2 linked regions of the Homo sapiens genome follow. Each later gene encodes a partner of the first gene's protein in a complex. Each region holds a gene or a part of one and is shown on either strand. Other genes may lie near its edges.

Region 1 (3,814 bases):
CCCCAGAATCCCCTGAGGGCAGTGTCTGTGTCTGCCTCATCCCTTTGCCTGGCCCCCTGCCCAGGGCCTGGTGCAGAGGAGGCCCACCAGACACGCTCCCTGAAGGAATGAATGAGCCGCTGCCCTCCCTTTGGCTTCCACGTCCCTTCCAGACAAGCAAGAGCAATTGCTTGTCAACACCCAACTCTCGCCATGCTTTTGTCTCTCATTAAAAGACCCCCAGCTCCTGCCTTCCAGGAGGTTCTAGAAGCATAACAGTTCCAGTTGGCATTTGATGTCGCTTTTGACTCTGTGGAAACACCACGTGCATTCCACATTATAGCAGAGTCAAGCTTTGCTTTCCATAGTAAACTGGGCATTTGGTGTTAAGTGCCCAGACCCTGCCCAGTGGCAGCTCTATCCACTCTCTGCTTACCCCCAGTACCACCCGCCTCACCTTCACCTTCTGCTCCAGCAACCATAAAAAGGGCATGTGATAGGAACAGCACAGATCTGTGTGGCAGGGGCAGCGGGGGGCAAGGGCCAGCTGTGTCTTCAACTAGTGCTGTGTCCTTGGCCGAGGCAGTTTCCCTATCTGGGTCTTTGAAGGAACTGCACCAGAATCCGTGGATCTCAAGCCTGATTTAGCCTCTTTAAGACCTAGCCATCCTGCTGGACGCGGTGGCTCATGCCTGTAATCCCGGCAATTTGGGAAGCCGAGGCGGGCGGATCACTTGAGGTTGGGAGTTCAAAACCAGCCTGACCAACATGGTGAAACCCCTTCTCACTAAAAATACAAAAATTAGCTGGGCATGATGGCACATACCTGTAATCCTAGGTACTCAGGAGGCTGAGGCCAGAGAGTTGCTTGAACCGGGGAGGCGGAGATTGCAGTGAGCCGAGATCACACCACTGTACTCTTGCCTAAGCGACAGAGTGAGCAAACAAAAAAAAAAAAGACCTAGCCATCCACTACTTTCCTTCAAACATGTTGCTCAGGGACCCAATCTGAGACACAGATAAAAGGAGTAACTGCCACAATGTGCACATGTACCCTAAAACTTAAAGTATAATTTAAAAAAAATTCTATAATAAATAATCTGCAAAGCCTTGAAAAAAAAAAAAAAGGATTAACTGCTCTGGCCAAAGTCAGTGCAGAGGAGCACAGAGCCCCCCTACCTGGGCCTTGGGCTGGGACATGGGACCCCGCTTGACTCTGAGACAAGTTGAGTCATCAGAGCCCAGCTGGGCTCCAACTCTGCTGCTCCCGCCCCACTGGCAGGAGGATGGAGGTGGGAGGTGGGCAGCCCCTCCTCCTTGTTCCATAATGGGAGACCACAGAAGGCCTCCTGCAGCAGTGCGGGAGGTAAGGGGCTCAGAGGCTCAGCTCCCCGAGGGAGGGGCAGGGGCCAAGCTGCACTCATGTCCATCCCCTCAGCCCATCAGGGGGCACTCAGTAAATGCCCCTCTGAGGCACTGCCTTCTCGGTCTTGGCAGCATCTAGGCTGGGTGGGGAAGCCCTGGGGGAGCTGTGGGAATGAACGATGGTGAAGAAAGGAGGCTGCTCTGGGGCCCTGCCCCAAGGGCGAGTTCACGCCTCTGAGAGGAAGAGATGGGCTTGGGCTCCTTTTTTCAGATGCCTGCCTTCCCTCCCCCCTTCCACTGTTCACTCCCAGAGCCCACTTTTCTATCCTGTTTCCATGACAACATGCCTCCCTCCCTCCCTCCCTCTTCCTGGCTGCAGGGGAAGTTCTTCAGGTGCACCGACTTGTCCAAGATGACAGAGGAGGAGTGCAGGTACATGGGGCAGGGAGCACAGTGGGACGGTCACGGGGCAGGGAGCATGGTGGGACAGTCACGGGGCAGGGAGCACTGTGGGAGGGTTACGGTCACGGGGCAGGGAGTGTGGCAGGACGATCACAGGGCAGGGGACTGTGTGTTGGTGGATGACGGCCCTTCAAGCTGGAAACTGGGGAAGCTCAGCCTTTAGGCTTAGGAGGGACACTCACAGAGGCCCCTTTCCTCGGACTCGCCCAGCGGTGTCCCCTTGGGTCCCAGATCTGGAACTTCATTTCTCCTTCACACTCCCCACCCAGGGCCCAGAGGATGTGGGTGGGGCAAGGCAGCCCAGCCATGCCCTGTGGAGTGACTGGGCCTCCCTGCCACAGGGGCTACTACTACGTGTACAAGGACGGGGACCCCATGCAGATAGAGCTGCGTCACCGCGAGTGGGTACACAGCGACTTCCACTTCGACAATGTGCTCTCAGCCATGATGTCCCTCTTCACGGTCTCCACCTTCGAGGGATGGCCTCAGTGAGTGATGGCTGGGGCCTAGGTCCCTCATGGACATGGTCAGGTAGGACCAGGCAGCCAGCCTGCCCTTCTGCAGCCCCCACGGTGCTACTGCTACCTGTGGCAGGCGTCCAACAAACCCACCAACTCTCTGATGGTTTGATGGTATGTTGACTGGTCACTCCAAAGTAGGCCTGACCAGGGGTCTCTGACAAAATGCACGCAGTCCCCCATAGGTGTATGCCTCTCTGCCCACAGGGCAGATTGTTAATACTGATTGATTAGGGATAGATGGGGCAACCTCTTGAAAGGCAGGGCCATTCCAGGATTGGGTCTGGTCTTTCCTGGCGCCGACCTAACTCCTGTCCCGTAACTTGATTGTTGAGAAGGCTCTCTTGGCTCTCCACAGCCAGTGGGATAAAGCCCATCCTTCCCAGCCTGACTCTCTGCCTTGTCACCCCACCCAGTCTGTCCTCTCTTCTCTGCCCACCCCCAGGCTGCTGTACAAGGCCATAGACTCCAATGCGGAGGACGTGGGTCCCATCTACAACAACCGTGTGGAGATGGCCATCTTCTTCATCATCTACATCATCCTCATTGCCTTCTTCATGATGAACATCTTTGTGGGCTTCGTCATTGTCACCTTCCAGGAGCAGGGAGAGACTGAGTACAAGAACTGTGAGCTGGACAAGAACCAGGTGCCTGGGCTGCCTGCCAGAGGTGGAGGGCAGAGCTCCAGCAGGCCTCCTGCTGGCCCAAGCCCTAGGTTCAGCCAGGGAAGAGAGGCCTAAGGGTGACCCCAGAACCTGCATTTGATGCCAAGCCCTAGCCTCCATGCACCCTACCCTATCTCCAAACTGAAGCAATACAAGTTGGTAGAGTGGGTCTTCTTGTGGAACCTCATGATGCCCAGAGAAAGGAAGCCCTTCAGACCCACAGTCTAGTCTATAGCACCCATGGGAATGGGCTGTGATAACTCAAGGGGAACCCAAAGCCCAACAGGATTATTCCCCTAAACAGTTCACAGTCCTCAGCCACAGCCCCTGGCCACAGCTGCTCCTGACTTGCCCGTCAATCCCATGGATGTGGGTGTGGAGAGGGAGGGAGGGGCCTCTTGGTGCTGACCTGTCCTGTTGTATGTGTCACAGCGCCAATGTGTACAGTATGCCCTGAAGGCCCGCCCACTGAGGTGCTACATTCCCAAAAACCCATACCAGTACCAGGTGTGGTACATTGTCACCTCCTCCTACTTTGAATACCTGATGTTTGCCCTCATCATGCTCAACACCATCTGCCTCGGCATGCAGGTAAGGGCTCCCCAGGAGAAAAATGTCTGATCAGACTGGGACCTGGGCCTTGGGTAGGGCAGGATGAGTAGGGCAGGATAGCCAGGATTCCCCCCAGTAGACATTTCTTGTGCACTGTGTGCTGAGGTGCTACATGGAATACAGAAGTGAACTGCGCACAGGCCTTGTCACCAGGCACTTATGGTTTATTAAGGAGGTAATTCAAGCATAAAAATAGTACGGTAATTCTGCAAA
Region 2 (2,929 bases), on another chromosome or scaffold:
TTACTTACACACTGGAGTATTTTTAAAGGCTGACAGCATAGTCAAGGACCTGGAATCTGGTAGTGAATTCCCTGTTATTTAGCTACATTCAAGCAGAATGTGGGTGACCCACCTGATAGGATGTTTTAGGGAAAGTCCCTGCATGGCCGGGCACAGTGGGTCACGCCTGTAATCCCAGCACTTTGGGAGGCCGAGGCTGGTGGATCACGAGGTCAGGAGATTGAGATCATCCTGGCTAACACGGTGAAACCCCGTCTCTACTAAAAATACAAAAAATTAGCCGGGCGTGGTGGCAGGCGCCTGTAGTCCCAGCTACTCAGGAGGCTGTGGCAGGAGAATGGCGTGAACCTGGAGGCGGAGCTGGCACTGAGCCAAGATTGCGCCACTGCACTCCAGCCTGGGTGACGGAGGGAGACCCGTCTCAAAAAAAAAAAAAAAGTTCCTGCATTAGGCAGATGGCTGAACTAGATATTTCCTCCAAGGCCTCTTCCAACTCTGAGATCTCTGAGATCCCATTATTCTATAGTTCTCTGACCTGATTATAGACAGCCAGGGCATGTGTTCCCAAGACAGCGTCTCCCTAACTCTGGTGCCCCCTCCAGCCTGTAGCAGCCATGATGGAGGAGGAGCCAGAGTCGGCCAGACCAGAGGAAGGCAAACCCCAGGATGGTGAGTGTTACCCACCTCCATCCAGAGATGGAGTAGGATCAGAGGCTCAGCTGTGGAACAGAGGGTGGAGGAGCAAAGGGCAGGCCAGCTTTGGATAGACGAGGCCCTTCCACAAAAGGGTAAGAGAATAAGAATTGCCCTCCAGGAGACAGACAATTTGTTGGTGTTTCCTATCCCAGGAAACCCTGAAGGGGATAAGAAGGCTGAGAAGAAGACACCTGATGACAAGGTAAGAATCCTTCCTCCCTGCAAGGAACCCAGTTCTCTCCCCAACCCAGCTCTGACACCACTACTCATGGCCCTGGCAGAAGCTCACTCTTTAACTCCTAGGCTTCCCATCACTTCTGACCCACACTCTCCATCAACTTGCACACCCACCCACGACCAAAACACTTCTCTCAGTTCAGGGACCTAGAAGAGAGTTGGAGTGTAGAGTGTGTGGTGAATGTCCCTGCCTTGGAATCCTGCCCCTCAGTGTGGGGTAGAGGAGCCCTAAGACTCATCATTCCCTTGCACCCCCAGCACAAGCAGCCTGGCTTCCAGCAGTCTCATTACTTTGTGGCTCTCTATCGGTTCAAAGCCCTGGAGAAGGACGATCTGGATTTCCCGTGAGAGGCCTTGGGGCAGGGGGCTGGTACTGCGGAGTGAAGAGGAAAGAGCTGGGTTCCCCCAAGGGAAAGGAAAAGGGGGGACTCAGGGCTTGGAGCCTATTGATGCTGGACCCGGGGCACAGCAGGGGACCTGCTATGTGAGTGAGGCCCCTCCCTTCCCCTCCCAGGCCAGGAGAGAAGATCACAGTCATTGATGACTCCAATGAAGAATGGTGGCGGGTGAGAGAAATGGCTAGGGCTAGGGTGGAGTGTGGGTTGAGTCCAGAACCCGACATTGAGAGATGGACTCTCCCTACTATCTTCCCTAGGGGAAAATCGGGGAGAAGGTCGGATTTTTCCCTCCAAACTTCATCATTCGGGTCCGGGCTGGAGAACGTGTGCACCGCGTGACGAGATCCTTCGTGGGGAACCGCGAGATAGGGCAGATCACTCTCAAGAAGGACCAGGTAGGCTGTTGCCCCAACCCAATCCCAGGCCTGAATGCTCCCTAGCCCACCACACTCCTTGGAGAGCTTAACCATTAATAAGACTAGGGTGAGCCCCTGTAAACCCCGGCTCCCCTGCTGTCCTCTCCTACCTTTTCCTTTGATTCCTCTCCTACTTCTGATCCTTTAATCTTCTAGATCGTGGTGCAGAAAGGAGACGAAGCGGGCGGCTACGTCAAGGTCTACACCGGCCGCAAGGTGGGGCTGTTTCCCACCGACTTTCTAGAGGAAATTTAGGCGTGCGGGCGCCTGCAAGCGGGAGACACCCACACCCCATTCTGGGCGGGCCCAGTGGAGTTTGGGGAGGGGGGCGAAAGCAACGGGACTGCTGGGAGAGGAGGGGTAGGAAGGCCCGCCTGAGCGCGACGGGGCTTCCGGGAAGGGACTGGTTCTCGCCCCCTTCCCCAGCCTGGGGCCTCGGATACCTGCTGCCCAGAGCAGCCCGGACCCGAAACCTTTCAGGCCCCGCTTGCAAGAGCTGGAAAAAAACGCGTATCTACTAGGAGGAGCCAGGGACTGGGGCGGGGGGCGGGGGCGAGGGAGGGCGAACTGTCGAATGTTGCGAATTTATTAAACTTTTGACAAAACTTAGAAAAGTTGTTATTTAACTGGGGTTGAGGAGAGGGCCTGCGGAGGGGTGGAGAATCCTCCCTAGCTGTCCCGCCTCGTTACCATCGGGTAACCTGAGACCCATCTGGGCTGAGGTTGGCGGGAGGTGGGAAGTGCGCCCGCCAGGTGAGGCCTCTGTAGTCAGTAAAGAAAGGGGAGCGCAGGGCTGGAGTCGCCGCCCCCGCGCCCCAGCGGTTGGGAGCAGGATCTTGTAGTAGGGTAAGTCCCCCCTTGCTCTTGGCGATTTAGCCGCAGGCAGCCCCTTGCATTTCGGAATCTGGCTTGGCGCCGAGCTAGGCCGCCAGGGGGCGATGCAAGATCTCGGTTGGAGAGCGAGGGATGGGGAGGGGGTGGAGGGTGGGTAAGGGGAGACAACCAGAGACACCAAGCCCGAGACCCTGGGCCTGGGAGGGGGTGGGGTGCGTGCCGTCTCCATGGCAACACTTCCTCAAGTCCTCCGAGAACCGAGCTAGCTAGGCCGGGGGCCTAACCCCACCCGCGCGGCCCCTGCCCTAACCCTTTCCGACAGGTACCGAGTGAGAACGGAGGGCAGAC

What was found.
Region 2: CACNA1S (region 1) and STAC3 share a complex: the UniProt entries of both Homo sapiens proteins name them as parts of the calcium channel complex.

The regions. Positions count from the first base shown.
Region 1 is NC_000001.11:201,060,424-201,064,237, reverse strand, and holds part of CACNA1S (voltage-dependent L-type calcium channel subunit alpha-1S), read left to right. Parts: intron 1-1,723; coding exon 1,724-1,776; intron 1,777-2,147; coding exon 2,148-2,294; intron 2,295-2,769; coding exon 2,770-2,971; intron 2,972-3,421; coding exon 3,422-3,580; intron 3,581-3,814. UniProt on the Homo sapiens protein: Pore-forming, alpha-1S subunit of the voltage-gated calcium channel that gives rise to L-type calcium currents in skeletal muscle.
Region 2 is NC_000012.12:57,242,885-57,245,813, reverse strand, and holds the end of STAC3 (SH3 and cysteine-rich domain-containing protein 3), read left to right. Parts: intron 1-602; coding exon 603-669; intron 670-848; coding exon 849-898; intron 899-1,191; coding exon 1,192-1,277; intron 1,278-1,447; coding exon 1,448-1,499; intron 1,500-1,588; coding exon 1,589-1,726; intron 1,727-1,903; coding exon 1,904-2,002; 3' UTR 2,003-2,356; downstream 2,357-2,929. UniProt on the Homo sapiens protein: Required for normal excitation-contraction coupling in skeletal muscle and for normal muscle contraction in response to membrane depolarization. Required for normal Ca(2+) release from the sarcplasmic reticulum, which ultimately leads to muscle contraction.